2 separate regions of the Homo sapiens genome follow, and region 1 is linked to region 2. Evidence: fine-mapped expression QTL. Tissue or cell type: whole blood. Region 2 holds a variant in brackets; the other region holds the start of a gene. All regions are shown on one strand. Distances are from middle to middle.

Region 1 (16,540 bases), 28 kb before region 2:
CAGATCTACCATACTTCCATCCCATCAAAATATACCAACATAGATTCCATAATTTCCACATGGGCCCCAGCCTTCCTTGTAAAAAATTATGTAATCTGACAAACTATTCCTGCTAATATGTAGGCATTTGGCAGCCAAAAAGCAAAAATTACCTTACTGGTGGTCATCTCAACAGGACAGATTTCAACTGTACAGATCTGTGTCCCTCAAATATCACTAAATAGGCCTGGCATGGCAGCTCACATCTATAATCCCAGCACTTTGGGAGACCAAGGTGGGAGAATCATTTGAGGCTAGGGGTTCAAGACCAAGCTGGGCAACATAGTGAGACTCTGTTTCTAAAAAAAAAAAAAAAAACTTAAAAATTAGCCAGGTGTGATGGTATTCGCCTGTAGTCCCAGCTACTTGGGAGGCAGAGACAGGAGGATCACTTGAGCCTGGGAGGTCGAGGCTGCAGTGAGCCATGGTAGTGAGTGCCACTGCACTCCAGCCTAGGTGACAGCTCAAGACCCTGTATCAGAAGAAAAAAAAAAAAGGCCAGAGGAGGTAGCTCACGCCTGTAATCTCAACACTTTGGGAGGACGAGGCAGGTGGATCACTTTACGTCAGGAGTTCGAGAACAGCCTGGCCAATATGGTGAAACCCCATCTCTACTAAAAATACAAAAAATTAGCTGGGCATGGTGGCATGCACCCGTAATCCCAGCTACTCAGGAGGCTCAGGCATGAGAATCACTTGAAACCGGGAGGCAGAGGTTGCAGTGAGCCAAGATCACACTACTGCACTCCAGCCTAGGTGACACAGTGAGACTCTATCTCAAAAAAAAAAAAAAAAAAACACTAAAAAAAAATGCATACCAATTCTGTGAATCAGCCTTATTCTTTAAAACTATTTTTTAATTATAACAACTTAGCTTTAAATACTGTTATCTATTATGTTCTTTAATTTCCAGTTACTCCGAAATTCTCTGAAATTCCCCAGTGAGAAAATGGCAACTGGATGAACAATAAAATAAATATTTGCTTTACTCTAAGTATTTTTAAGATTTAAAAATAGGATGTCAGTCAAATACAAGTAAAATGAGAGAAAAAAAATCAAGGCTATATTCCATCTTCTTATAAAGTAAAGTGCATTTTGTAAATGACACAACTAAAACAGACTCAGGAAGATCACAAGGTCAAGACGTATCAAGAGGAGCAACTGCAAATAAATTATACAAGGCAGTATATAATATGATGGTTAAAAGGATAGGCTCCAAAGTCAAAGGTCAGGTTAAACCTCAAGTTTAAATCCTTTTAGTAGGCTCTACCACCTACTACTTAACTTCTCTGTGCCTCAGGTTTAGTTCAAATCCTGGCTCCACCACTTATTTAATCTGTCAGTTGCTCAGGTTTAAAAAAAAGAAAATAGCCTGATTGCGGGGTGGTTGTCAGGATCAAATGTGATGACATGTCAAGTACTTCTAGAGTAGTACAGTACCTGGTATATAGCAGTTGACGCACATTAGCTATTAATATGACCTATAACAATTTCCCTCTGAATCTATCAAGTTTTCAAAAACTCTAAATCAAAAAGCTTCTCCTTTTTATTTGAAAAAAGTCAAGCTCTGAAACCATTTCCTCTTTTTTTCAGTCCTTTTTGAATATGGAAATTAGTAGGTAACTGGCTTATCATTTGATGACTCTTCTTAGTCTTTGTATAATAAAAAGGCTCAAGACTCTTCTTAGTCTTTTTATAATAAAATTCTCTTCCAAATATTATACAAAGGACAGACTGCTCCATGGATCAAAAACACTACAAAGAGTTCACAAAGTATAATGAAATTCTGAGATTCATAAATGAACAGCTACTGGCACAAAAAGCTTAGATAAGAAATAATGCAGATGTCTGTTTGTTTGCTCAAGAAATACTGAATTTTATAATAAAACACAGATGGTAGAGATCTTCATGGCTTATAGTCACATCACTAAAAACAGAAAATATTTTTGGTAAATTTTTTCTTAACAACCAGAAAACCCCTTATTTCATCACAACAATGAATAGATAAATGACATTACAGGCAAAGACAATTTCTTCAAAAACAAATTACGTAGAGAAAAAAAGCTTAAAGGCTCAGATTTTCAGCTACACATATCCCTTACTTTGAGCTTCAAAAATTTGAGGCTTCTAGCACTCCTTGTGGTCTGTAACATTAAGCAGTAATACAATTAGGCCTCATTTCTACCAGAAAACATTAAACTGACTGAAAGAAAATTATCTAGAATTTTGATTCTGATCAATTTAAACATAATGCCATGAGTCATCTAGATGAGTCAAGCAAATATTAGAGTTCATGATAAACGAATCAAAATATGTTTTAAAGATCTGCAGACAAACGTTTTAATAATTTTGTATTTGCTGAAGTCCTCCTATGTGTGACACATTGAGGTAGGCACATTCATATTGAGGTATGCACTTTCACATGCATTATATAACTTTGTTCTCCCAACGATCATGGATTATTATCCTGATTTTACAAATGAGAAAACTAAGACCAAGTGATTGGCCGATGGAAACGACGCTTGTATAAGATTCAGTCAGAACACCAATTCAAATTTTCTGACCCTTATCGTACTTCCAAAACTCAAGTACTGTCAATCTCTGCTGTTGCAAAGCAAGTTAATCTTTTTATTTAGGGAGAGGTGAAAATAGAGATGGGAGAATAAAAATTCTTCATAATGTTACAAAAAAAGACTTACTGTGCTTTATCTGACATAATTTATTCAGTCTGACTTAAATGCTTTGCTGCACGTTGTCTACCCCCTTAGACACTGCTTATCTTCAGACACACAGCCCACACCAAAACCTAACTCAAGAATCACCTCCTCCAAGAAAGTTTCCCAGATTAAATGACCTGTTCCCCTTCTCCCAAGCTAACATCCTTCCTTTATCATTTCGCTGCTTGCATTTAGTTTGGACTACATTATCAGATACTCCTTTTGTTCTCCAGTCATATATCTGGAAGTAGACTTTTTTCATTCATTAACTATTGAACATTTGGAGATTCAATGGTGAGCAAAACAGACAAGGTCCTTGCTATCATGGAGAATTTACATTATCTGGATCTTCGACAAAGGTAAAAATAACAGGGTATAAGAATATGATGCTCTAGGACTAGGATTTCTTCCCTATAAGGTCTCCGAAAATAGCTCTCTCCCTTGCAAGCTTGATAACACTTTTCAGGAAGAAAAATTCCTTCTATCACGCCTTCCACATGAGAATTTTATGACTTTGTGAGGATATGTGAGGGATGGGGACCAAGGTGGGAAGAAAGATCTAAAATCTCTCAGGGGTTTCCCACATACTGCCATGAAATATGCACACAACATGAGTCTAGACATCTCTTCCTGTGTCTCATCACAAGGAAGCTATACTTTGGCCACAACTGCTCCAGTCAAGCACTTCTACTAATCTCCTTGTACCCAGCCACCTTCACTAAAAATTGTATATTTCTCAGAGGCTTTTTGTTTTTTTGGTGTTTTTTGAGACTGAGTCTTGCTCTATCGCCCAGGCTGGAGTGCAATGGCATGATCTTGGCTCGTTGCAATCTCTGTCTCCTGGGTTCATGCGATTCTCCTGCCTCAGCCTCCCAAGTAGCTGGGATTACAGGCACACACTGCCACGCCCAGCTAATTTTTTTGTATTTTTAGTAGAGACGGGGTTTCACCATGTTGGCCAGGCGGGTCTTGAACTTCTGACCTCATGATCTGCCCACCTCAGCCTCCCAAAGTGCTAGCATTACAGGCGTGAGCCACCGGGCCTGGCCTCTCAAAGGCTTTTTTATTCAAGTTGTGTTTCTGTCTTATTTGCAGGTCATTATTTGTAAGATTAAGGCAGGACCTATGTCCTCTTTGAATTGCCTGATGCTCCAAGAACATTGCTATAAATGTTTTTAACTTTCAATATAATACAAACATTACAACATGACATTTCAGGCATTGTTATTAGGATAATATTAGGATAAAAGTTTTCCAAATTAATATTAGAAAACTAGATCTATGTACTGTATCAATTCTTTGTCTTTAATGCCTTAATTCAAGTAATCTACTTTTGAAGGATTATTTACAAACCAAAGCCAAGTTGAAATGTACTAACACTGGTTAAAATTCTGCAATTCATACTTTTAAACAAAAGATCCGCCAGACACAGTGGCTCATGACTGTAATCCCAGCACTTTGGGAGGCTGAGGCGGGCGGATCTTGAGGCCAGGAGTTGGAGACCAGCCTGGCCAACATGGTGAAACCCCATCTCTAATAAAAATACAAAAATTAGCCTGGCATGGTGGCACGCACCTGTAATCCCAGCTACTCAGGAGGCTGAAGCATAAGAATCTCTTGAACCCAGGTGGCAGAAGCTGCAGTGAGCCAAGTTGCACCACTGCACTCCAGCCTGGGATACAGAGTGAGACAGTCTTAAAAAAAAAAAAAAAAAAAATCCTTTTGTAATGCATATTTTACAAATTCATAATTTCATCATTTTTCTTAAAGCAAACTAAAACATAAATTCATTATACACAATTGTAAATTTATCCCCAAAGTGTTTTCTAAGGCTTCCAATTTTTAAATGAACCAAGGAACTGAATATTGACAAATGTATAAGTACCCTGAATGTGTTATAAAAAACATATTTGACTGTCTTTAAAATGCAGTAACATTCTAAGGAAAATACAGTAGCATCTTTCCACAGATCAGAGATTCAATAACTATTATGATTCAATCAAAGAGAAATAAACCATGGCCATTTTTAATTAAACAGGCATTTCTAAGCACCTGTGTACACGGTATTGCTGTTCAAACGGTTGACATGGAATGTGACCGCAATAACTTGATGTCCATAATTAAAGACCCAAAAGGTAGCTTAAGTTTCATCTATTTCCTTTCTCAGCCCTTTGAGCAGGTATATTATAGTCACTCCATACACGGTTAATATTAAAAAAAAATAAAAGTAACAAACATTTGAAATTAGTTGTACTTTTATAGAGAACAGTTTTAAATTGCATGGCCTTACTTTTCCTATTCCAACCTATTTTATAAAACTAGCATGATCTTAATAATTTCACTGCAAAACAGGTTCTAGCAAGCATAGAAACTGATCATAGCCTCTCAGCAAAATCAAGTTTAGATGAAACTCTAGGAAATTAGCAAAATTTAACAATCAATTCACCCACGATTCTCCACAATTCTTGCTCTCTCTAGATACGAAGGGAGGCAAAAACTGTTTTAAAGGATTATTTCAAAAGCAGCACTAATTTTGGGAAAAACTTAACTGCCATGCAGGAGACACTGTATTACTACTCAGACGTCATTTAAGTCTTCTAGCAGCAGAAAGGCAAAAACATCATTAAATTTTTTATTTAATGCATATATACTTACATTATCAGTTAAAGTTTACCCATCTGTTTACGTTGTCCAAGTTACCTATTATTTCAGAAAGCATTTAAATAAAATGAAATTAGGTTACGTTCTGCAACGCAGATGTGTCTCATAAAGAAGAGTGTTAAATGACTTTTGTGAATGGAAAATCTGCATATACTGTTGCTTCGCCTCAGCCAGTCTTGAGTGGGTGGTTCAATGAACCTAAAGCATGCTGCCTGTGAAGCTCCTTGGAACCTGATTCCACTCTTGAGAGAGGGCTTAGAAACAAACATTAAATTTAAAAGCACAGCAAAGGCTTGGCTTTCCTCCTACGTTACAAGAAGGCCGGGAGAACTGAGGCTTAGAGGAACAACACCGTGTCGCTTGGCTCTGCAAAGGCGGGTGCGGTCTGCGGTGCGCGGCACAGCCTTCTCTGGGGCTGTCACAGGAAAGAAGGAGCCTCGCCTTAACCGCACCGAGCGACAAAGCGCCAGCTCTCCTGGGCGCGGGGGCTCCCAACGAGGCCCATGCCATCAACCTATCAAACTTCAGGAGGGACAGACACCCGGGGCGGTCGAAATGCTCCAACAGCCTCCCACCCCCGTTCCCCTGCCGCGGCTTTTGTAAGGCTGCAGATGCACCTACTGTGGGCCCCTAAACACTCCACCCTGCCAGCCTTTCCAATCCCCCTACTCCAAAAGGGAACAAAGGAGCCAAAGAACTCCTCGGCGGGGGTGGCCAGGAGTCCCCGACAGCCCGAGCTCAGAACGTGGCAATAAGGGTGCGCAGTCGCCCTGAGGGGTGCGAACCCAGCACCCCAACCTCAGGAATGGAGCAACACTCACCCGTGCGGAGCTCCCAGGGAGGCGGGACGCAAGGAGCCGGTTCCTCCGAGGTCGCCGCGGCGCCGGGGTCCGAGGCCCCGTAAGCGTCTAGTCAGACCCCAACTTCTCTCGGCCGCTGTCGTCGGCGGCAGCTGGGGCGCGAGCCTGGACGAAGGGCGCTGCCCAGCGGCCGCGGAGGCACTGCCGGCTCAGCCCCCGAGCGGGGCGGGAACTTTCGGCCCCGAGGTCCACCAGCCCGGGCGGACCCCCACCTTCCCTCAGTCGGCTTGCTACCGGCAGCGGCTACTGCGGCGTCCAAAGCTAACACTACAGCCGCCGCCTGGCCAGGAGCGCGTCGCGGCCTAATGTTGTCATCCGCCGCGTCGCCGCCTTTCTGGGCACCCAGAACCGCGAAGATCCTTCACATTCTAGTGCCCTCCCCCTGCCCCGCCCGCCCCCCGGATCACGGGCTTCGGCCACGCCCTCTTCCCGTCACGTGACGGTGCGCGGAGGCGGTGGTGGAGTTGCTTCCCCTGCTAGGCGGGCTCGAACCGGGCGGGAGTCACTGTCCACCTTGCTTCGCCAGGGTGTTATCGCCAGCCAGTCCCCTTCCGCATGCCCAAGGGCAGCCTCAGGAAGCGAGCCCACCACCGTCGGCCCAGCGCCTGTTGATCGGCCAGGCCTTCTGGGCCGGTCATACTGGGCCCTTCCTAACCTGAGGAGATTGCACAGTAGGGCTCCCTGGTCTGGTCAGGGCTCAGTTAGGACCCCTCTCCAGCCTTAGGCTTGGTGAAAGCTTTAGCGAAACAGAAAAAAGAACGCATCGTGGTGTAGAGTGTATGGCCTAAGAAGCATTCGGTAACTAAACTACTTGTTCCTATTTCTAGTGGCACATTAACCGTGGCATTTAATTTACTGCTTTCCTCATTAGAGGTTTTTTTTTTTTTGAGGAAACGGTGTATTTCAATCATGCTGGGATGAAAACAGCCTAGCAAACTTATTTTTGTTCCTTGTTATGTTCAGGATCCTGCTGCCAGTTTTACAGTCATTAAGTTTTACAGTGTGTTAGGTTGGTGACAGTTTAAACGGGTACGCAGGAATTTGACAGTTTGTTCCATTTTTTAAAATAAAGCCTAATTCTTGATTTTTTTTCTAATGCCTTAATTTTTTTTTCCTAATTCCTTAACTCTAGGACTTAACCTTTTGCTTTCTTTTTTAGCCATGATCCGAAGAACCCTCTAGCCGCCTAATGAAATCCTAACTATACAGAAGTAAGGGAGGTAGAATAAAGATCATACTCAAACCCTGATCACAATGAAGGCAAATGAGAAAGCTTTCTGTAATAATTAAATTGGGGTCATAACTCATTTTCCCTTGTAGCCCAGAACTAAGGATTTTTTTCTTAAGCTATTCTCATCTCATTACATTTTCTTAACAAGAAATCAGAAGGCATTCTGATAAGCTGGATACATTGAAATGAATAAGCAATAGAGTTTGGCCTATATAATTATTATTAATATATTTCATAGCAGCTCTAAAAAAATCATAGACTTACATTGTTTTATGTTACCCAAGAAAGAAAACAAAGGCTGCCAATGAAACTATGCCATACCGCTGATATGTAAGGCACCTTTAAGCCACATCTTTTTCCTTTTTTTTTTGAGACAGGGTCTCACTCTGTCTCCCAGACTGGAGTGCAGAGGCGCAATCTCGGCCCACTGCAATTTCCGCCTCCCGGTTCAAGCGATTCTCCTCCCTTAGCCTCCCAAGGAGCTGAGATTACAGGCATGCGCCACCATGCCCAGCTAATTTTTGTATTTTTAGTAGAGAGGAGGTTTCACCATTTTGGCAAGGCTGGTGTTGAACTCGTGACCTCAAATGATTCACCCGCCTCGACCTCCCAAAATGCTGGGATTACAGGCATGAGCCACCGCGCCCGGCCTGAGACACATCTTGAATTCAGAGATGTAAACATGTCAGAAACAACGAGTCTTAGAATCTCTGAGATATTGTCATGAACTGGGAAACAACGAGTCTTAGAATCTCTGAGATATTGTCATGAACTGGGAAACAACGAGTCTTAGAATCTCTGAGATATTGTCATGAACTGGTGTTCCAAAGAGGAAAAGATTCTACCAGGTTCTGTTCTGAAGCCTGAGAGACTGTAGTACAAATAAATGTGAAGGAAGTTTATTATTCTGTGACATTATTTCAGCAAAGCTAGTAACTTTGGAGTTTGTTAACAGATTAACTTGTCTCCTGTTTTCTAGAGGCATGTTTTTCAACCTGCAACTCAAAAATCAATTTCATTTTTATATGAAATAGGCTAGGATGTAATACAATATAAAATACCAGAGTGCATAATGTCTAGTAAGGGCAAAAATTGCTTCCTGAAACTTTTTGTTTCAAATATGGTGGAAGGTGAGAGTATGTCCTATGTTGTGATTTAAACAATTTCTTACTGTGAGTTGCAATCAAATAGATTTGGAAAAGAATGTTCCTAGAGCATAGATAATATGCAAAATACACCATCTGGACCCCGTTTTTCTGGTACTTTTATTTTACTTTGGAAACTGAGACTAAAGATTAGAAAAAGGTGGCAAATTGCCTTGCCTAATTCTCTTCTGCCTCAGCCCCAATTTCATACATTGGCTTTTGAAAATTTGATCATTTGTTGGAAAAAGCAATGTACTGGAAGCAAGGAAGCCTAGGTTACAGACTTAGCTAATGAGATGTATGACTAGATAAATTACTCCCTGCATTTCAAGTTCCAATCAAGTAGGACCACATGCTGTTTGAGAAATGATACTAAACCACCTTTTTTTTTTCCCGGTGGATGGCAATCACATTGGAAACAAACAGACACGGTATACTCAGGATTATGCAAATTACTGACAGCCTACGTTTAACTTCTTTCAGCTCCACTCAAAAAAAAGAAAGTCCTAATGCAAGTAATTGAAAGTGAAGATATTGCAAAACAAATGTAAGTATATCTTTCACAATCTTCTCTACTTTGATTATCACTAGTATAATAGTTACTTGTCATGAATAACTAATGATTTTGACATACTTAACAACTGATTGCAACACAAAAATATATTAATCCACTACAGTTGAAAAATCATTTTTTCAGATCCTTTCAAATCTGATATTGTGATTCCAGGAATGATAATTCAATCTAGCATTTTCAATGTAATGACAACATAAACAGAAACTAATATGTGATCCTGCACTGTAACTGAAAAATATTCAGTAACTCCCAGAGATGCCCTGCAAGTTTGCTACTCTTACAATGATTTTAAGAATGACATTTTGAAATAAAGCTTTTTTATTATAACGATCCGATTTTAACTCCAATGAGAATTCATCTCTTTTGCCTACTGCTTTATTAATTATACATTTCTAAGAATGGGAAGTTCTTTCCAAATTAGTTTAAGCACTGACAGGCTTGACAGCCTTTCCCACAGTATATTTCAACCCTGACCTAGAATGACAGAGATGTTGCTTGAGGTTGTTTGCTTTTTTCCATTTGGCTTATCCCATTAGACAATTATGTTGCTGACAATTACTAATCAGGATTCTAGACTAAAATCCTCATTTTCTGGAAGAGAATTTAGATTAAGAGCAACCTCAGCCATAAATAAGGTATTCAACACAGCTTTGAAGACTTGTATTCTTGTTGGTCATGTGATTTGCTTTAGCCAGTGCTTTGTGAGCAGATGTTAAATGCTAAATCAAAGCAGAGGCTTTAAATTTGATTGCAAAATTCAGGTCAATCTCTTACTCTTGTGCCACCTGCCATGAGAAAGGTATGTTCCAGATAAGATCTCAGAATAAGAAAATAGATGGAGCAGACCTGAAACTCTCACCCTGTACAGAACTGAAGCAACTGACTTGCAGCTCCTGACATACGGCTACTGATGTGAAACAAGAGTAAAACAAAAATATTTGTTGTTGTGAATCACAAATATTTTTGAGATTGTTTGTTGCGTAGCATAATCTTGCAAATCATCTAAAGTGAATTTGAGCCAACAAACTCATGAGTCAAAGGCTAAATGTACTGTGGAACAATAATATTTGTCTATTTAATAAAATAAATAACAGACATCTACAAACTAGTCAACCAGCTATTTGGTAAATATCCACCTAAAATTTATGTTAAGAAGCAGTCTTTATAAAATCTGTAAATTTGCATGCAAAATGTTTGCATGTAAGATATTTACATACTGATTTTAAATATTTCTGTTTAGTATTATTTGTCTTAAATATCCCTTGAGGAAAATTTGGATAGTAAAGTATAAAGAGAATATAGGATTCTGTTTCTAGAAATATCAAGGACTAGTTCACACTTGTCACACTGAAAACAAAATCCCTGGAAAAAACATTTTTTAAATCTTATTAAATATATTGATTAACTGACAATAGGGTAAGAAATTATTAAGTTAAAAAACTAAATGAAGGCAGGAACCTAGAGTTTAGCAGAGTCAGCCAACTTTTATCTCAAGGGCATGTGCTAAACCCAGTTACTAGGAGCATTGGTTTTCGTGACCTTGTAAGAAAGACACAAAACCCATTACCTGCATTATACACACACACACACACACACACACACACACACACACACAAACAACTGCAATTCCAAGGATTATTAATTTGATGTAAGGATATACTAGAAATAAACTTGCTGCTTACTAGCATAGGCACCCATCCCCCAGAATCTACAAAGAAAATTAGCCGTCTTAAACCTTGGCACCTGGTGGACAGGGGAAAAGCAAAATCGTATCTGAGAATTTGGAACTGCAATCCAATTCTCACACAAAAACGTAGCTTGAATTCATACTAGCTGGGTGGTCCCCAAAAACTTCAGGCTAATAATTAAGATTTTTTTTTTTTTTTTTTTTTAGACAGGGATTCTCTGTCGCCCTGGCTGGAGTGCAGTGGCATGATCTCAGCTCACTGCAACCTCCGCCTCCCAGGTTCAAGCAATTCTCCTGCCTCACCCTCCCGAGTAGCTGGGACTACAGGCACGTGCCACCACGCCCAGCTAATTTTTTTATTTTTAGTAGAGACAGGGGTTTCACCATGTTGGCTAGGCTGGTCTCGAACTCCTGACCTCGGGTAATCCGCCCACCTCCGCCTCCCAAAGTGCTGGGATTATAGGCATGAGCCACTGTACCTAGGCGTAATTATGAATTTTTGACTGATAATGCTCTCAGAAACCTGGCAGAAGCAAATACCAATCCTCTCTGGAGGAACCCACCTTCATCTTAAGCCATAAAGAATGACTATAAATAAAATTTTAAGGAAAATGAGCAGCTCACATTTAAAAAAAAATAACAAGCACAGAATAAGACACCATTCGTGAGAAACAGTACAGACTTAAGACAGCACAAACAAATTTTAAAAGACTTCAGATCCTGGATTTACAAGTCACGGACTGGGCCAGGTGTGGTGGCTCATGCCTGTAATCCCAGCACTTTGGAAGGTCAAGGCAGGCAGATCACTTGAGGTCAGGTGTTTGAGCCCAGCCTAGCCAACATGGTTAAACCCCCATCTCTACTAAAAATACAAAAATTTCGCCTGTAATCCCAGCTACTGGGAAGGCTGAGGCAGGAGAATCGCTTGAACCCGGGAGGTGAAGGTTGCAGTGAGCCAAGATCGCGCCACTGCACTCCGGCCTGGGCGACAGTGAGACTCCACCTCAAAAAAAAAAAAAAAAGGGGTCACAGACTGTAAATAACAATATTAAATATGAGTAAAGGAATAAAAGACAAGTTTGAAAATATGTGCAGAGAACAAAAAACTAAAGTAGGAATGAAGATTTTGAAAAAAGCAAATAGAACTAAAAGAGTTGAAAAACATAAATGATTAGAATAAAAACTCAGTGGACAAATTTAGTAGTTCATTTGACACAGCAGAAATACAAGCCAATGAAATGGAAGATAAAGATGAAGTTAAATGCAATAAAAAAAGAAAACATAAATTAAAAATATAAAAGAGACTTTAAGTGACATGGAGGACATTGTAAACAGCTCTAAAATCTAATTATGACTTCAGATGAAAAGGAAAGAGCCAGTGGGCCAGAGGCAGTATTTGACAAGATAATGGTTGTGAACTTTCCAGAACTGATGAAAGACTCCAACTCACAGACTTAAGAAGCCTCCCAAATCCCAAGCAAGTTAAAGAATAATAAAACCACGCTGAGATATATCACAGTGAAACTGTAGAACACCAAAAACAAAAAAGAAAACCTTAAAAGCAACAAAGAAAAAATATAGTTAATCTTCAAAGTGTCAGGTAAATGACTTTTCATCAGAACCAGTGAAAAACAGAAGACAGTGGAATAATATCTTCAGTGGACTAAAAGAAAATGACTGTCAGCCTAGAATTCAGTACCCAGTGAAAAAATTATTTCAAGAATGAGGCCAAAATAAAGGAATTTTCCGGCAAGCAAAAGCAGAATTTGCCGCTAATAGAGTCTCGCTAAAGGAAAGTCTAAAGAAATTTCTTTTTTCAGACAAAAAGAAAATGATCCCAGGCCAGGCACAGTGGCTCACGCCTGTAAATCACAGCACTTTGGGAGGCTGAGGCAGGAGGATCACAGGAGTTTGAGACCAGCCTGGACAACATATTGAGATTTTATCTCTACAAAAAATTTAAAAGTTAGCTGGGCATGGTAATGTGTGCCTGTGGTCCTGACCCGGGAGGCTGAGGTAGGAGGACTGCTTGAGCCCGGGAGATCAAGGCTGCAGTGAGACATGATCACACCATTATACTCCAGCCTGGGTAATAGAGAGAGATCCTGTCTCAAAAAAAAAAAAAAGAAGAAGAAGAAGAAAATCAACTCAAATGGAAGGTCTGAGAGTTGATAATAAACGAAGAGCATTAAGAGTGGTAGATATTTGCCTAAATCTAAATACAATTGACAATGCAAACAAACAGTAAGTATTGTTAAAATTATTTTAATAAGTTTTTTTAAAGAAAAAAAAATCACATATCTAACATTAGAAATAGACCCAACCAAATTTGCATTTTATGCCTACTATTAGACCTCATTAGACAAAGTATTTTACAAACTAGTACTATTATCTCCATCTGATACATACCTTTTATTTTAAAAGCAAAAACATGATACATTTCTTCTTTTCTCATCCATAGAGGCAAATTGTATTAATATATTATTGGTATTCTCTTTTTAAATAACAGCATTTTAAGTGTTTTTCTTCACAATGACATTCTTATTTCAAATTTACATAATGTACCAGTGAAGATGATGTATTACATAATTAGACTAAGAAAGTAGCATATATTTAGGAGATCATGATTTAGAGTAATAAAAAGCAGAATTATATACTATTTTCACTTAACTATGAAGTATTAATGATTCCCTCCATAGAAGTCTATAAATGAAAGTTCATCATAACAAATTATATAATTATGTATTCACAGGTTAAAGACAATTAAGTCTTATTGAAATGCTCTGCCTACCCTTTCCACCCACGTTGCCTATTCAAAATTATGTGCATGCTATGACTTTTAACACCATCTTGGGAAATAGCTAGAAATTTGTGCGCAGGTATAAGGATTGACTACTGAGTTTTAACTCAATTCAGAGGACATCCTAAATTCAAAATAAATTCTAATAATAATAAGAACCCATTTCTGATAGCTACTTAGACTACAAATTTCCAATTGTAAATGTGTTTTTCATTTCAATTTTAGGAGAGTGTTTTTTTTTTAAGTTTATCATGACTATTTAAACATGGGAAGCTTAGAACACATAATCCCTTAGATTTCCAAATCTGTAAGTATAATGCAAATGAATTATACCTTACTTTTTTTAAACCAGAACCTTTCTCTTTTTTCCCCTCAACCACGAGATCATTCAAAGTATATTTACTTATATACTACTTTGTTTTTGTTTTAGAATCAGGGTCTCACTCTGTCACCCAGGCTGAAGTGCAGTGGCGTGCATTACAGCCTCGAACTCCTGGGTTCAAGTGATCTCCCTCCTCAGCCTCCTGAGTCACTGGGATTACAGGCATGAACCACCACACCCTAGAATATTTTCTTGATAAAACCAAATCTATAATTTTATAGAAGACTGTCCAAATGACTTTTATTTATATCTCTTAATATATGTAAAAGTGTATACATTACTAGTATTCCTATTAGCTACTAGATTGCTAGCTAATTACAAGATTATTCCAGTTAGCTTTGTCCAGCCTGTATTTATACAAGTATATGAAACTCTTGAGAAGTCACAGTAATTAAATTTTCATAAACCAGGTTGTATATTAATTCTTTCAATTTAATAAGTTATCAGTTTGTACTGGGTCCTACACTTACTTACAAAAAAAAATTATCAAGTATCTGTATGTTGTTCTACCTCTTTCCTGAAATGAGTGTAAAGCTAACAAGAGTCCTCACCCTATAAACCAGCAGTATTTCAAAACTCATTGTTACTGTTCTGGGAGTGAAGGTGCCGTATATTCTTACCGCATTATCAGGTAGCAACCATCTACTCAATCCTCCCAACCACAGGTACTACCTAGATGTCTTTTGCCAGATCTCCCAGGTATTTAGTGCCTCTTTTACCTCTACAGAACACTGGTACCCAGAAGTGATATGGTGGAAAAAGAAGGCGCCTACCCTATATTCCAATAAAGTCTGTCCACTACATTCCTGTCACGTTCATTCCTCTGTTCTAGGCCCTGTTGATATTCTCCCCTAGTTGTTTCCAGTCCATTTCTATGGGAGCCTTACTTTTGTCTGGTATTCTTACATGCACAGCTGAGACCAGACTCCCAGTCTCATTCCCTTAATTGTATCCTTTAATCCTTAATCCCTGTAATATCCTCCTGGAACTGGGATTGATATACCTCTATTGAAGACTTTATCTTTGAATGTCAGCTCACTTCCAGACATGGCCACCAACTCCACCCCATGATCGCACATTGTTATACTCCCCACTTCCTTCTGCAGTCAGCAAATAGACTTGGACCTGACATTCTTTGTGTCCTAAGCCCCCCACCCCTTCCTTAAGTTACTAAAGTAGTACACCAAAAGAATACAATTATCTGAACTGAGGGCGGGGAAAATTCCAGAGAAAAATGACCTTCGTGCAACAAACAAAGGCAAGAGAGTAAAAGGGAGGGCACTGTTAGAGATTTAAAATAGACTTACCAGATATATCAACCAAGTGCAATACGTGGATCTTTACCTTTATCAGATTCCAATTCAAACAACTTATAAAAAGATATAATGAGACAATCAGGAAAATTTTAATACCAACTACATATTACAGGATATTAAGGAATTATTGTTAATTGTCTTAGTTGTGATAATGGTACATGATTATGGTTTTTGTTTTTTTAATGTCTCATTTCCTAAAGACATTCTAAAATGTTACTGGGTCCCTGCTTTAGGAAAGAAAAAAAAAGAAGACTTTCAGAGTATGTCACTTTCTTTTTTATACCTGTCGGTCAATTCCATGGGAAAGTATTACTACTTGTTATTTTCTACCCTTAACCAAATACAGTAATCATTTTCTCCTTATCATATCTATTATTATTTTTTAGTAGAAGTGTTCAAATCAAAAGCAGCCCATGCTGCCTACCTGGTATTTGCTCCAAACATCTATTAAACCACTATGGAAGGCCTAACATCATAAGACTGGTGGTAAATAAATCTGATTGAGCATGTTAGCATGTTCAAATTTATATAAAGCATTCTGCAAATACAGATTACTCTAGAGATGCTAAGAAGCAGATGTACTGATCTCGTTGGCATTGGCATTCACATGATTCAGCTACAAATAGAATTTGAACAGATTCCAAATGCACAACTGTCAAATTCATAAAAAGTAGCAAAAAAAATGTCAAATAAAAATTTAGGCTTTGCCTAGAATAGCAGTGACTGTGTTTTAAAAAAATCGAAATATTCTGTTAATGTTTTATTTCTTCAGTGCTAATATTTGACAAGAACTAAGTACTTTGATTTCCATTGAATTCGCAGTGATAGCCCAGAAACTGTTATAAGTTAGTATTACTATTGGGTCCACAGAAAACCTCAAAATACATTTTAACCAAAATTACAAAGTTAATACAAATTTGATTCACTGAAGTAGTATAGTGCAGTGTGTTTGAGTTCTAACACCAAAATCAGACAGATCTCAGTTCTAACCCTAGCTTTGTCATTTACCACCAAGGCTGTCATCTGTAAAATCATCTGTAAAACAGGAGTTTAAAAAAAAACTCTTTTATAATATTATAAGAATTAAAGAACTCAAGAAATATAAACTATTATGGTCACTACCTTTTG
Region 2 (16,540 bases):
GCCACTGCACTCCAGCCTGGTGACAGAGCAAGACTCCGTCTCAAAAAAAAAAAAAAGAAGAGAGAAAAGAAATTGGACCCTTATCTAACGCCATCCACAGAGTAAACTCCAAATGTGGTCTAAGTGGTGGTGCCTATAATCTCAGCTTCTTAGAAGGCTATGGCAGGCTGGGCACGGTGGCTCACGCCTGTAATCCCAGCACTTTTGGAGGCCGAGGTGGGCAGATCACCTGAGGCGGGAGTTTGAGACCAGCCTGACCAACATGGAGAAACCCCGTCTCTACTAAAAAATACAAAATTAGCTGGGTGTGGTGGCGCATGCCTGTAGTCCCAGCTGCTCGGGAGGCTGAGGCAGGAGAATCACTTGTACCCGGGAGGCAGAGGTAGCGGTGAGCCGAGATCGCGCCATTGCACTCCAGCCTGGGCGACAAGAACGAAACTCTGTCTCAAAAAAAAAAAAAAAAAAAGAAAAAGAAAAAAAAATAAGGCTATGCCAGGAAGATCAATTGAGCCCAAGAATTCAAGACCAGCCTGGGCAACATAGAAAGACCCAGTCTCTTAAAAAAATAAAAATAAAAATAGATTAGAAACATCAGACTCAAAATAGTAAAACTCCTAGAAGAAAACGTTAAAAGCTTCATGACTTTGGTCTTGGCAGTGATATTATGGATATGACACCAAATGCACAGGCAACAAAAGCAAAATAAACAATAGTCTGGATGTTCCTCAAAAAACTTAAAGTAGAACTACCATTTATCCAGCAATCTCCCTTCTAGGTCTTTGTCCAAAAGAATTGGAACCAAGATCTTAAAGAGATATTAGTACTCCTATTTTCATTGCAGCACTATTCATAATAACCAAAATGTGGAAATAAACTCAATGTTCATTGACAGATGAATGGATGAAGTGGGCAAATACATACAATAGAATACTATTCAGCCTTTAAAAAGAAGAATTTCTGCAATATGAGACAACATGGATGAACCTTGAGGACATCATGCTAAGTGAAATAAGCTAGTCACAGGAAGATAAATACTGCATGGTTCCACTTTTATGAGATATCTAAAATAATCAAATTCATAGAATCAATGAGTGAAATGGTAGTTTCCAAGGGCTGGGGGAAGGAGGAAATCGGAAGTTACTAATTAATGGGCATAAAGTTTCAGTGAAGCAAGGTAAATAAGCTCTAGAGATCTGCTGTGCAACATTGTACAATTTCAATAATGTATTATTTTCTTAAAAATTTGTTAAGAGAGTCCAGGTGTAGTGGCTCACGCCTGTAATCCCAGCACTTTGGGAGGCTGAGGCGGGCAGATCACGAGGTTAGGAGATCGAGACCATCCTGGCTAACACAGTGAAACCCCGTCTCTACTAAAAAATACAAAAAAAATGCCAGGTGCCTGTAGTCCCAGCTACTTGGGAGGCTGAGGCAGGAGAATCTCTTGAACCTGGGAGGCAGAGGTTGCAGTGAGCTGAGATTGTGCCACTGCACTCCAGCCTGGGTGACAGAGCGAGACTCCGTCTAAAAAAAAAAAAAAAAAATTTGTTAAAAGAGTAAATCTGCCAGGCGCGGTGGCTCATGCCTGTAATCCCAGCACTTTGGGAGGCCGAGGCTAGTGGATCACGAGGTCAGGAGTTCAAGACCATGCTGACCAACATGGTGAAACCCCGTCTCTACTAAAAACACAATAATTAGCTGGGCGTGGTGGCAGGCGCTTGTAGTCCCAGCTATGTGGGAGGCTGAGGCAGGAAAATTGCTTGAACCTGGGAGGCAGAGGTTGCAGTGATCCGAGATCGTGCCACTGCACTCCAGCCTGGGTGACAGAGTGAGACTCTGTCTCAAAAAAAGGAGAGTAGATCTCATGTTAAGTGTTCTTGCCACAAAACATGTTTTAAATATAAAAGGGAGGATAGTGCCTAAATCAAGAAACTTGAATTGACACAACTTATTCCAAAATCCCTGGGAGATTTCTACTTCTTTAAAAAGAAATGTGCTATCTGTAAGGTCACTCTTAGCTGCAAGAGAGACAGGATATTTTTAAGTTTACGTTGTCATCCAAACTTGAATTGGATTTCTGTTACTAAGGAAGAAGCAGAAAATGGATATTAAGCAGGTAATTTGTCATAGTCCATTCATTGGACTGTGAATGGCTTAACACACCATATTGTAAATATATTTTTTGAAATCTGTTTCTTTCCCTAGACTGTAAGATCAGGACTGATTTTTTTAAATGTCTGTATCCCCTCATTTGGCAAAGTATTTTGCACATAGTATATGCTAAGTATTTATACATGATTTGCTATTGAATGTTTCCTGTGGATTAGTTTATTATGAGTAAAAATTAGGAAAACTTTATTACCAGCAAAAAGTAGGGAGGAAGTTAGGAAAAATTATCACTAAAAATGTTAGCATATGTGACTTCTTCTTGATACTTTTAATTTTTGTACTAATTAATTGATTTTTAGTATATCATAAAAACCCTATTTCTTATATAATTATAAGGTAACTTCAGAACATAAAAACTTACAAGAATATCACAAGTATCTTAGTCCATTCATGCTGCTATAACAAAATACCATAGTGTGAGTGGCTTATAAAAAACAGAGATTTATTTTTCAAAGCTCTAGAGGCTAAGAAGTTTAAGATACGATACTGGCAGATGCAGTGTCTGGTAAGGGTCTACTTCCTCATAGACAGCTGTCTTCTCATTCTAACCTCACACGGTGGAAGGGCTGAGGGTTCTCTCTCAGGCCCATTTTATAATGGCAGTAATCTTATTAATGAGGGAAATAACCCTATAATCTAATAATATCCCAAATGCCCCGCCTCCCAATACCATCATTTTGGAGGTGAGGAGTTCAACATTTGAATTTTGGGGGAACATAAACATTCAGACCACAAGAACAATAATTTATTTGTTTATATTAAAAGGAACCATCTTCTCTGCCTCACAGTTTTCCTACCTGGCTCTTAAAATAGAAATATGTTTCTTTCAGAACTATAGAGTCAAGAGGAAATTTCATCTTTCTTTCTGCCACTTTCCCCAAGTGGAAGGAGTTTTGTATTTAATTGGTGATTTGGGGAGAAAAACATAAAACCCAAGCCATTTCTTGCCATCTTTTTCAAATCTTCCCACCCACAAGAAATTATATTCTGCTCAGTTCCTCAATATATGTCATAAACTAAAAACACACGGATTAGGGCCTATGCTTGTCTTCTAGAACAGGCCTGAGGCCTAACTCTCATTCTTTCTACTGTTGATCTCACCAAGCAGAAACAGTGATTCTACACAAGTCTATCCATCGTGCAGACTCAAATTCTCCTGTGGCGAGTCATCACCCATTTGGACTTAGGAAGTATTTGACCAGCTTGGCCAACATGGTGAAACCCCGTCTCTACCAAAAATACAAAAATTAGCTGGGCATGGTGGCAGGTGCCTGTAATCCCAGCTACTCGGGAGGCTGAGGCAGGAGAATTGCTTGAACCCAGGAGGCAGAGGTTGCAGTGAGCTGAGATCACGCCACTGCACTCCAGCCTGGGTGACAGAGTGAGACTCCGTCTAAAAAAAAAAAAAAGAAATATTGAAAAACCTGGTCATGGTTGTATATTATAATACATCCAATCAGCTTTATCTTAGGAAGCTTTTTTGAAATGAAGTCTCACTCTGTCACCCAGGCTGGAGTGCAATGGCATAATATCACTGCTCACTGCAGCCTCTACCTCCTTGGCTCAAGCGATCCTCCTACCTCAGTCTCCCAAGTAGCTGGGACTACAGACATATGCCACATGCCTGGCTAATTTTTCAAACATTTTGTAGAGATGGAGTCTCCCTATGCTAGGCTGATCTTGAACTCCTGGACTCAAGCAACTCTCCCACCTCGGCCTTCTGAAGTGCTGGGCTTATAGTCATGAGCCACCATGCCAAGCCGAGAAGTTGGTATTTTATCTTTTTGGCTTCCTATCAATTGGGTCTGAATTCAGGGAAGAGTTAAGATGTGTGAGCAGCTATCACTGCCTAAGCCCCATTAATGACAGGATAGTAATACATTTTTTAATAGGTAACTCTAACCAAAAGTAGTTGTTTTATGAGAACCTAGGTCTAGCAAAAGAAATAAACTTAAATCTTGCCAGTCTAACAATAAGGGAATAAAATATCCCAGCAGCCAAGTGTGGCAGCTTATGTCTGTAATCCCAGTATCTTGGGAGTCCGACACAGGAGGATTGCTTGAGCCCAGGAGGTCAAGGCTAAAGTGAGCCTTGGTTGTAGCACCATGTTAAAGCCTGGGTGACAGAGTGAGACCCTGTCTCAAAAAAAAAAAATTTTTTTTGTTTATTTATGAATGCCTACTGTGTGCAAGGCAGTGTTCAGAGGAGAAGTTTAAAGAGTTAGAATACTAATACTTTAAACAAAAGTTACCTGGTACTCTAATTTTATTGTTTGAGTTTTGAATTGCTATAATGATCAAGGCAAAGAAATATCATAATTATAACATTTGAGTGCTTATGGCTTGTCAAATGAGCAGTTTCCTGCGAAACAATATCTGATTGAATCCTCAAAACAACTCTGTGAGACAATACATGAGAATAGTCTAGGTTGTGCTGCAGTTGGGAGAAAAAGCAAATGTTTAACAAAAAGTTAGCTCTGGCTGCAGGCAACTCTCCAGGCAACTGTCTTCCATGCAACAACGTGATAATCCAGGCAGCTTCAACCTTGTGGTGCTGCCATCTTAAGATGAATCTTTTTCCATGGTTGCCACAGTCGGGAAAGAAAAAAATTTCATATCGACCTTTTACTGCCACATCCTGAAGGTGACACACGTAAAATCTACAGTTTTCACTGGCCAGACCAAGTCACATGGCTCCATTCAGTTGTAGGGTCGCTGAGGAATACAGTCAATCCACTGAGTGGCCAGAAAGGAAAGAGAAGTAAATATTGATTAACAAAGCAATATGTAGCATAAATAGCTATTATGACTGTTGTTTTTATATAG[G/A]TGAAGAAATGTAGGCTTAGAAAAATTAAGTTATTCATCCAAAGGTACATATAAGGTAAGTAGGGGAGCCTCAGCATATGGACCTATCTGACTCCAGAGCCTGTGCCTAACTTCTATCTTCCATTACCTCCCAGCACCGCACTGGAAGCCTGGCAGAACCTAGCCACCACTAGGGATATTTAATTCAATTCATATACATTCAGTTCAATTCAAATCAGCATATATTTGCTAAATGCTTTCTCTTTGCCAGGCATTGCAGCTGCATCTGGAGGAGGGTTGAGCTATTTCACCATATAGATCTCCTACGACTTTGAGACTGTGATGTAAAGAAATAGGCAACTGTGATGGTTATTTTATTTGACAACTTGGCTGGGCTGTGGTACCCAGATATTTGGTTAAACGTTATTCTGGATGTTTTGGTGAAGGTGTTTTTGGATGAGATTAACATTTTAACCAGTGGATTTTAAGTAAAGCAGATTACTTTCCATAATATGGACGGGCCTCATCAATCGGTTGAAGGCCTTCATAAATCAAAGACTGACCTCCCCAGAGAAGGAAGGAATTCTGCCAGCAGGTTGCCTTTGGACTCAAGCAGAAACTGAGTCCCCACAATCATGTGTGCCAATTCCTTAAAATAAACATCTATATCTATAATATCTATATGTATACACATTCTGTTGGTTTGGTTTCTCTGGACAACCCTAACTAATATAACAAGCTTAAAAATTAGTTCTATAAAACAGGGCTAAGAAATGATTCTTTATTATACTTTAAGAACAAGATCCTCTGCAATCCCTATTTACTTTTATCTTTGAATGTTAAGTAAAAATAGCAGAATTCTAAAATAACCTACAGAAATAAGTCAAGATTCATTATATTTTCTATAATACAAGAAGTTTTACAAAGCTATTCATCATAAAATACATAAATTTTTGCAAGGAACCTTGTGGACTGAAAAAACAGCCAAAACAAATCTGCCACATACAGGCCCCAGAATGTGGTTTTATAATCTGTCCACTTAGGAAACTGTTCCAATTATCTTCACAAATTCAGTATTGTGAGAATGTGTCTAGGTGTTAATTATCATTTTAGAAGGAAGTCAGCTCTCCTACACAGCTAAGAATGCTAACAGTCTCCAATTTTAACTTGTTCTCTTATACAAGATGCTGTTTTGGGAAGTATTTAGTTGCCCCCTGCTGGCCATACAATTGCAGGATTCATTTTTTAAAAAGTTCTCAGTAGATTGCAGATGATAATGATAAACTTCTGAAGAGATGCATTCAACTTTTTCATCAGATGAATTCACAATAGACTTCCAATGCTCAATTGAGATACGTAAGTTAATAAAAAAAATTTTTTTCCCCACCACCTGGTATAGGGTGAAATGTTCCAGCAGGAAGACTTTAAGCTAGATCAGTGGGAGAACAGGATGAGATGTAGGAGGAGTGACTGAGGGGCTTCACAGGCTCCCTTTCTTCTTTAACTTTTGTTTTAGGTTGAGGAGTACATGTGCACGTTTGTTATATAGGTAAACTCATGTCATGGGGGTTTGTTTTACAGATTATTTCGTTACCCTGGTACTAAGCCTAGTACCCAGAAGTTATTTTTTCTGCTCCTCTCTCTTCTCTCACCCTCCACCCTCAAGTAGGCCCCAGTGTCTGTTTTTCCCCTGTTTGTGTCCATGAGTTCTCATCATTTAGCTCTCACTTATAAGTGAGAACATGCAGTATTTGGTTTTCTGTTCCTGTGTTAGTTTGGTAAGGCTAATGGCCTCCAGCTCAATCCATGTTCCCACAAAAGACATGATCTCATTCTTTTTTATGGCTGCATAGTATTCCATGGTGTCTATGTACCACATTTTCTTTATTCAGTCTACCATTGATGGGCATTTAGACTGATTCCATGTCTTTGCTATTGTGAATAGTGCTGCCCAAAATTCCTAAACACAATTTTCTTTCTATAATACTCATGTCATATTTTATGTCTCTTCATATCCTTTTTAAAACCATATGGAAATAATTTACCAAATTGAGAGGAAAAAAACACTTGTTCAAGAAGCTTAAAAACTATATTTTTATCCTGTCTCTGCTACTAACTCTCAGGCTAATCTTGAGCAAGACTCTTTAACTTTTGGCAGTGATAAATATGTTTACAAATTTTGATTTTCATTCCCGAAAGTTTCTTCATGCTATTTTGTAATTTCTTCTTCCTGCCACTCTTGGGACTTTCCCATCCTCAAGTTACCACTGATCCACTCTCTGTCACTGCAGATTAATTTGCATTTTCTTGATAAGAAAATTATTTTATTTTATTTATTTATTTTTGTTTTGAAACAGAGTTTCGCTCTTTTTGTCCAGGCTGGAGTGCAATGGCGTGATCTCAGCTCACTGCAACCTCTGCCTCCCAGATTCAAGTGACTCTCCTGCCTCAGCCTCCCAAGTAGCTGGGATTACAGGCACGTGCCAACATGCCTGGCTAATTTTGTATTTTTAGTAGAGATGGGGTTTCATCATGTTGGCCAGGCTGGTCTCAAACTCCTGACCTCAGGTGATCTGCTAGCCTCGGCCTCCCAAAGTGCTGCGATTACAGGCATGAGCCACCATGCCTGGCCGAAGAAAATAATTTTTAAGCTTACTAGCTAAGACACTTTATAAAATGAGATATGGAAAAAATGTAAATGCTTTATAAATATTTTTAAAAATTGAGTTTCCCTATCTTGAAACCTGAGGTGCAGTGTGATGCAGTGGTTAAAAGCTTAACCTTGGGGCCAGGCACGGTGGCTCACACCTGTAATCCCAGCACTTTGGGAGACTGAGGCAGATGGATCACCTGAGTTCAGGAGTTCGAGACCAGCCTGGCCAACATGGTGAGACCCCATCTCTACTAAAAATTTAAAAATTAGCCAGGCATGGGGGTGCATGCCTGCAATCTCAACTACTTGGGAGGCTGAGGCAGAATAATTGCTTGAACCTGGGAGACAGAGGTTGCAGTAAGCTTAGATAGCACCACTGGAAAAAAAAAAAAAAAGCAAAAAGCTTAAACTTTTAAGCCAGCAAATGCGGGCCTAGGTCTTGGGTCTTGGCTCTGTTATTTACTAGCTGTATGATGTTGGGCAAGTTACTCAACACCCTGAGGTTAACAGTTTCCCCATGCTTAGAGAAACAGATAATAATAGCATCTATCCTCATAAAGATGTTGTGCAATTGCATACAAAACACTTAGCTCAGTGCTGGGCCTGTACATAAAAAACCTCAGGGTTGACTACCAATGGTAGTCATCTATCTTTAGACATTTCAAAGAGCATCACCTTAATTCTAAGAAAAGGAAATGAGAAATGAGAACCCTGGCCATGCAGCCAGTGCAATCCTAAGGCAATCATTTTAGAAATGTTTTGTGAGGATTATCATAGTTCACTGTGTCAGACATGGTATCCAGCTGACTCTGACTCAAGCCCTTTTCTTAAGCACCCCATTGGTTTTCTTTCCTCATAACTCTTTCTCCAAGTGTCATGGTATCCCTTTCTTTGTAATTCCATTCCTCCCCCTCAAACATATGACCTGACAGTCATCTCATTTCACCTTTGTGATTTGACATATAACTTGGCCAGAGCAGAGTGATAGTCATCACTTGAGATGGCAGGCATGGTGGAAATAGAGATAATTGAAGAAACAAGGCTTATTTGTGAAAAATGTTCTTTAATAGTTTTATCCCTTGTATTCAAGTACTTCTGTTGCTCTTTTTTGAGCTCTGCCAGGTTTACACTTATTAAATTTCTCTCCCTACAATGGAAACTACTTGAACCCCACTTGCCAGCCTAGCCCAATTTAGTATCTTGGGCCAATTCTAATTTTATGAAAGAGAGAGTTAAGATGCTGTATCTTGAGATTTGCATAGAGAAAGCACCTTTAGCATGCTTTCTTCCATGAACTTTTAGCACTGCCTCATTATAGTGTAGAGAAATATATGGGTAGGGGGTAATTAATTTCTGAGGAGGAGAACCTCCTGCCTACCATCCCTCCTAACTTGTAGCATACCATTTATACAAGTTTATTCTCTTCTGCTATCTTAGCCTGGCTTCTTCCCTGAAATCGGAGTCTGAGACAATAACTTCTGTGCGGATAGTTGATTTTGGGAAGAGATCCCAGTGAATAGGAGTGAGGGGCTAGGAAAATTAAGACATGAAAGGAAGGAAAGCTAACTCAAGAATACATTAATCAATCTGAACATTGTTGTAGGTAACTCAGGCTCATTTCTCTGGATCTTTGAATAGCTACCTAGAATTGTCTGCCTTCCCCCAATGTGGCAGACATATCCTAAGGTAACCCCCAATGATCTCTGCCTTCTGGTATTAATGACCTTCTTTATGCCCCTCACCGTAAGACTGGGTAGAACTTGTGAACTGCTTCCAGCCAGAAGAATAAGGCAAAGGTGATAGGATGTTACTCCCATGATGTAATGTAATACATGCATTACAATATATGACAAATGTGATGGGATATCACTCCCATGATTATGTTATATTATGTAAGAATCTGTCTTGATAGCCGACTCACTCTCTCACTTTCCTGCTGGTCTTGAAGAAACAAGTTGTCATGTTATGAACTGCCTATCGGAGAGGACCATGTGGCAAAGAACTCAGAGGTGGCTTGTAGAAGCTGAGAGCCAACAGAAACAAAACAAAACAAAATCTTGAAGCTCTCAGTCCTGTGACTGTAAGGAAATGAATTCTCCCAACAACTTGAGAGAGTTTGGAAGAAGATTCTTCTTTCTTCAGGCTTTCAGATGGGAACATGGTCCAACCAACACCTTCACTGTAGCCTGGAGAGACCCCAAAGTAGAAAACCCAACTAAGGTGTATCTGGACTCCTGACCTACAGAAAGAGAGATAGTAAATGTGTGTTATTTTAATGTGTTCAACTTGTGTTAATTTGTTACATCGAATTGGAAAACTAATAGAGATTTTGGTGCCTAGAGGTAGAATGCTACTGTAATAAATATGTAAAAATATGTCTGTGGCTTTGAAACTGATCAGTGGACAGAGACTAGAAGAATGCTTGAAAAGTATGATAGACAAATCCCAAATCACTGCGAACAAACTCTCAGTAGAAATGTGGATATTGAAGACTGCTGTTGAGGACTCAGAAGGAAGTAAGGAACATGCTATAGGAAACTGGAAGAAGGGAGATCCTTGTTATGTACTGGCGTAAAGCTTAGTGAAATTATTTCTTGCAATTACGTTGAAAGCAGAACTTGTAAATGGATGAATTTGGTTATATAGTTAAGGAGATTTCCAAGCAAAGTGTTGAAGGGGACAACTGGTTTCTTCTTGCTACTTACAGGAAAATTCAAGAAAAGAGACAAATTGAGAGAAGAACTATTAAGCAAAAAGGAATCAGGACTTGATAATTTAAAAAATCCTCATCTTCCCCAGATGGCAAAAAATATTAACAGTTGGAGATGGCTTTTGGGCACTGTCAGAAAAGCCTACTCTAGAGAAAATGCACTTGAAGTTACTCTATAATCTTTTTTAAAGCCCCCAAAAGATCAAAGGTCAGAGTACTCAGGGGTATTTCAAGATACGGCCCTTAGATTTGAAAAGATCTAAGGGTATGCCTCAGATCCTCTCAATCACACTATTGAGCCTCTAGGAAGCTTAAAGGAGATGGAATTATTTTTGAAACAATCTGTAGATGTGGCCTTTGTCTGATAAGAGTGAATGCCACTGAAATACAGAAAGAACCACAACATTCTTGAGAAAATTATTTCTGCAGAAACAGTGCCAACTTGGAATAAGACAGACAGAAAGACTAGAAAATGAAAAGAGGCTGTCAGACCTCCAAAATTTTACTGGCAGAAAGCAGGCTGATAAAACTACTCATCTGCAAACACATGCTACCTTCCATGAAAAAGGAAGAATGACTCAGATGGTGGAACCAAGAACCCAGAAAGCAGAGCCAAGAGCCATGAAGAATCATTCCCAAGCCTAGAAACTTAATTAAGGAACTTCCAATAAATCCAGTTGTATTTCAAAACTGCTATAGACTAGTGACTCCTTTTTACTACCCATTTCCCCTATTTTTAAACTGGAATGTCTATAGCTATTATCCTGTGTCTGTCCCACCATTGTATGTTGGGTGTGTTGGAGGCAGATAACTCATTTCCTTGGTTTCAGAGGTCCATAGTTAGAGAATAATTGTGTCCAGGAGCTTTACTTAACAGGTTATACGTAGGAGGCTCATCTGCACCTGGACTTGATTCACATGATGAAATTTTAGAATTTGAGCTGATGCTATAATGAATGAAACTCTTGGGAACTGATATGGTTTGTCTCTGTGTCCCCACCCAAATCTCATCTTGAATTGTACTCCCACAATTCCCATGGGTTGTGGGAGGGGCCCTGGTGGGAGATAATTTGAATTATGGGGGAGGTTCCCCCATACTGTTCTCATGGTAGCAAATAAGTCTCACGATATCTGATGGTTTTATCAGGGGTTTTATCAGGGGTTTCCACTTCTGCATCTTCTTCATTTTCTCTTGCCGCCGCCATGTAAGAAGTACCTTTCACCTCTCAGCATGATTCTGAGGCCTCCCCAGCCATGTAAGTCCAATTAAACCTCTTTTTCTTCCCAGTCTCAGGTATGTCTTTATCAGCAGTGTGAAAACGGACTAATACAGGAACCTTGGAAGGGGAGAAACCATATATTTCATATGGGAGGGCCTGAGGAAAGACTGGCAGACAGAACCTAGGCTGATTCTCCAATGACCCCCACTTTCTGATATCAATGCCCCTGTTAATTACATCCCATGAATATGGGAGGAATCTGTGAAGCATCTAACTTATAGAATATGGCAAAGGTGACAGAATGGCATTCCTATGATAACATTATGTTATGTAAGACTTCATATTGCTAGTAGACTCTTCTGCTGGCCATGAAGAAGCAAACTGCTATGTTGCTGCCTATGGAGTAGACCACATGGCAGGCAACTTGAATGGACTCTAGGAGCTAATGGCATCCTCCAGCTGACAGCCAACCAGCACACTGAAGCTTTCAGTCCTATATCCTCAATGAAATAAATTCGTTCGGCAAACCATATGAGCTTGGGAGCAGATGAGCTTCCCAATGAGAACACAGCCCACCTGATGCATTGACTCTAGCCTGGAGAGACCTGGAAGCAGAAAATCCAAATAAGCTGTGTCTGTACTCTTGACCACAGAAACTGGGATATAATACATGTTATTGTTTTAGGCTGCTAGATTTGGTAACTTGTTATCCAGCAATAGATTACAAGTGCAGTCAAAGATTGTCCCAGAGAGTGTTAACTTCTTTACTCTTCCAGGTTGTACATGCCTAAGCGCAGAGTGGGTTCTCATTGGCATCCATGCCATATCATCAGAGCAGCACAGGTTTTGAAATGATAAATATGTGGTACAGTTGCACAAAACTGGTTGCCATAGCAATAGTTGGTATAAAAGGTAGGCTGAAAGGATGTGAAAAAGATTATTCTAGTTTGTCTCATCCTGGCTACCATTTCAGGGAGTCTGTGTTGCTTGACTGGGTGGGGGCAACCAGATCATCATCTCTGAAGGGTCTGAACTCTAATTCTTGCTCTTCAGTGAGTCTTAATTATTACAATTACCCATTTATACTTATCACCAGACATGGAGCACGAAGAAATAACTCAGTGAATCCTATGTGTTCCATGCATCGGACTTCCTGTCTCCATTGGGTAGCAGCAACTCTATTTCATATGGGTAATCAAGGTCAGTTATCACCACCAAGATAGTAAGTGTTTTCATTGATGGTCCACTGACACAAGTGATCTAAAATGATCATGTGATAGTTATAGTTTCCAGTTCAATGGAGACTTCATGTGTGCCCTCATAGAAGTCCCCTTCATACCAAACAAGTGCTTCTAATCCTGAAAAGCCTAAGAATGCACAGATAGGAAGCCCAAATTCTGCAAAGGGGTCAATGGGAGTGTTGGTGAGAGCCATTCCTACAACCACCCTTTGGTTTCTGGACCTGTATATTCTGGCTATTGGAAACACACCACTAGAAATCAGCTATACTTTTTTTTTTTTTTTTTTTTTTTTTGAGATGGAGTCTCACTCTGTCACTTAGGCCGGAGTGCAGTGGTGCAATCTCAGCTCACTGCAGCCTACACCTCCCGGGTTCCAGCGATTCTCCTGCCTCAGCCTCCTGGGTAGCTGGGATTACAAGCACACGCCACCGCACCCAGCTAATTTTTGTATTTTTAGTAGAGAAAAGGTTTCACCATGTTGGCCAGGCTGGTCTCAAACTCCTGACCTCAGGTGATCTGCCCGCCTTGGCCTCCCAAAGTGCTAGAATTACAGGCGTGAGCCACTGTGCCCAGCCATCAGCTATACATTTAATGCACCTATCTTATTCTTGAGAACAATACCCTATCCTTTTGAAGTGTTAGTCCTGCATGGGTTCCTTGGCTAAGTCTTTATTAGATTATTTTATTGTTCCATTAGGATGGCCAATTTCATGTTTATGCCCCATTATTACACCTATTTTATCATAAAATGGGCTCTTTGATATAAAAAAATAGGTAGAATTCAATGCCAGTAAATCAGGCATTCAGTAAGTTCTTGTACGGTGGGTGGTGCTGACAAAGGTACCTACAACAGTGAAGAAAAATGCATACCCATAATAGGTATCAATTCTGATAAGTACAATTTGCTATCCCCTCCAGGGTTGAAAGAGTCCAATATAATCAATTTCCCACTGAATGGTTGACTAGCCTTCTTAAGGGATGGTGCCATAATGAAGACTTAGCATTTATCTTTGCTGCTAATAGACTGGACAAGCAGCAGTGGCCCAGGAGAGAGGGAGTTCATGCTATTGGATCATTCACAGCCTTTATCCCTGCCACCATGGCCATGTAATTATCATAGGCCCATTGTGTAAACACAGATATTGCTGAGAAGAGAGACTGAATGATTTCTACTAGACAAGTCCTGTCTACTTGGTTGTTTAGTGCTTTCTCTGCAGTATAGGCTCTCTGATAGGCATTGAGGTAGCACACAAATTTCTGCACACTTTGAGCCTACTCCAGTGGTCTACCCATACATTTATTCCTTGGATATTTTTATTTCCCATCTTCCAGTCTTTCTCCTCTAGGCCTGTCTGACTAACCAACCAAGCCAATTGCCATCATTCAAAGGTCCATGTACATCTATACATCAGGCCTTTTCTTCCTTTATAGAAAGTAGTTGATCAGGTACACTGCTTACAGATCTGCAGTTGAGAGAATTTCCCTTCAAGAATACCCTTAAGTAGGGTGGTTGTGTAGCAGCAGTCCATTTGGAGTTAGCACCAACAGATTGAGATGAACTTTCTGTGATTAAGATTCCATGCGCTATTTTGCAACATCATGCATTTAGTCATTTGGAAAATAGTGCTTCATTGAGTTATGCATATCTTCCAAGTGCTGACAGATTTCATGTTGAAATACCCCAAAAAAATCACATGTGTTATTGTCACCACTGATCTCATCAGAAAATTTTTGAAGAATCAAGAAGCTGCCAAATTCATAGAGGTAGATATGAGTTTTAAAAAATTCTAAATTTTGTTTGAAAGCTCAAATGTTATCATTGGCAACAAACGCTGTGAGTTGTTTTCCTTGAAGTGACGGGATCACTTATTTTTGAGAAAAGTTCTGACACATACCTAAGTCTGAATAACTATAGTTTATCTGTCTGTCATTCTTTCAAGTAAAGATAATTTTCCATGTAAAATAGTGGCTTAACTCACGACTCAAGCACAAAAATCATTTTCTTTGAGATAACCTTAGAACTTTGGTGTGCAACAGGAATACATTATGCATTTTGTCTCACAGAATTTTAAAACATACATAATCAAGGGTTGAGATTTAATAAAATTAATCATGCTATTTTATCAAGAATAATATTAAATGAAACTGTCTTGCTTTTCTGGGATATAGCAGTAAATAATTCAATGTCTACTAGTACACTTTTGGTACCACTGCCTTAATTTCTGTTAAAGCACCAACAATTTTACCCACCATTGCCTTTGTTTCATAGTGCAAATGTCAACTCACTGAGAAAGCCAAGTAATGTCTTGGTATTATTGTAAAAATAGTTTTGATCTTGTATATACTTGAAAGGATCTGGGAAATTCCCTGGGGTCTGCAGACCACATTTTATGAACCATGGTCAAGAGAAAAATCTGAGTCCTATGTGGTAGCAATCCACTTTTCACACAATTTGCCCCTCTGAGAAGAGTCTGTGCTGTTTTCACCAATCCTGGCTTTGACGCCTCTCTCATTGGCCTTTTCTGCTTGCTGATATCATGACCATCATATTCCATTCTCGGTTCTAGTTCCGTTTCCCATGTCTAACCATTTATTCTTGTCATCAAAGTAAAGATTCTTTGCCTCTTTTTGTATCTACTTGATCAAATCTCACACAAATCTTTTAATGATTCTATTTTAATTCTTGATCTTTTGTTACCAAACAGGCCCTTCAGGATAGAACTTAATTTCATTCATTATTCTTTTATTCGTACATTATTTATTTATTTTAAAAAAAACATTTTCTGCAGACCTACTATGTCATTTCCCAGAGAGATAGCATTTGCTTTTGGCCTTAAAGGGTGACATTATTTGGACAGGTTAAATGAGTTTAAGTTTTTCAAAATATAATAAATAATACCAGATTTATGGAGGTAAAAACAACAACAATAGTAGGGAGATTGCTTAGGGAAGCTCAAGGAGAATGCACACGGTGAGTAATTAAAGACAAAGCCAGAAAGGCATTGCAGCGTCATCTCATAAAGTATGTTGAATGCTTGAAGTTTATTTTGGTAAGCAATAGGGAGCTACTGGAGATATTTGAGCAGAAGCAGAAGTAATGGTGTGAAACAGGCTCAATATCAGAGTCTGCTTAAGATTTATATGGAGGAAGAATTTGGTGGGAAAAAATAAACTTGAAGCAAGAAAACCAGGTTGGAGGCCTGAACTAGGTGGGTAGGCACAGAAATGGAGATGGATGGAGTTAGATTTTGAGTGCAAGTAAGATCAGTAGGCAGTGGTGAAGAAGTTTTTGTCAAAAATAATTACAGTTTCAAGCATGAATTACTAGGAGAATGGTGAACTATTAATAGAAATCAGATAATCAGAAAAAGGAACAGTTGGTGTGAGGCAAGATGATGAGTTCAGTTCTCTACCTGTTAGGCATATAAGTGGCTATACTCAGCGGGGGCCTATTTGTAAATTTTATACCATTTACAAGAACTGGAACCTAACAGATATTAGAAGATTGTGGTTTAGTTACACTGGCTTGATATGTCTCTTTGCAATATAAATATATTAAAGTGCAGTTGTTATTTTAATTTCCTGTGGAGTTTTTCTCTGGACAAATGTAGCAGGGATATATAGCTCTTCTGTGGTTCATACATCACAAAGATTGCTCTTATAAAATGATATATACTTATTGAGTGAGTGTGTATGTCAGTTATTATGCTAAATTTTACGTATTTTACATCAACTAATCCTTACAT

What was found. PIP is the estimated chance that this variant, and not a neighbour inherited with it, causes the effect.
Region 1: OSBPL8 starts here. The variant in region 2 is fine-mapped to the expression of OSBPL8 in whole blood (TOPMed, PIP 0.98).

The regions. Positions count from the first base shown.
Region 1 is chr12:76,553,159-76,569,698 of GRCh38, forward strand. OSBPL8 (oxysterol binding protein like 8) reads right to left here and starts at 6,613. Exons shown (of 24, transcript NM_020841.5): 1 at 6,239-6,613. It overlaps LOC105369850 (a long non-coding RNA gene), which reads left to right and starts at 6,744. Exons shown (of 4, transcript NR_188081.1): 1 at 6,744-7,075; 2 at 9,137-9,200. RefSeq lists an enhancer at 5,534-5,843 and a silencer at 6,254-6,443.
Region 2 is chr12:76,580,810-76,597,349 of GRCh38, forward strand. The region is part of intron 3 of LOC105369850 (a long non-coding RNA gene); the gene reads left to right. Among named protein-coding and RNA genes, the nearest start is that of OSBPL8, 29 kb to the left of the region's middle. RefSeq lists silencers at 3,196-3,396, 8,346-8,546. The variant G/A (reference allele first, on the strand shown) is at 4,992.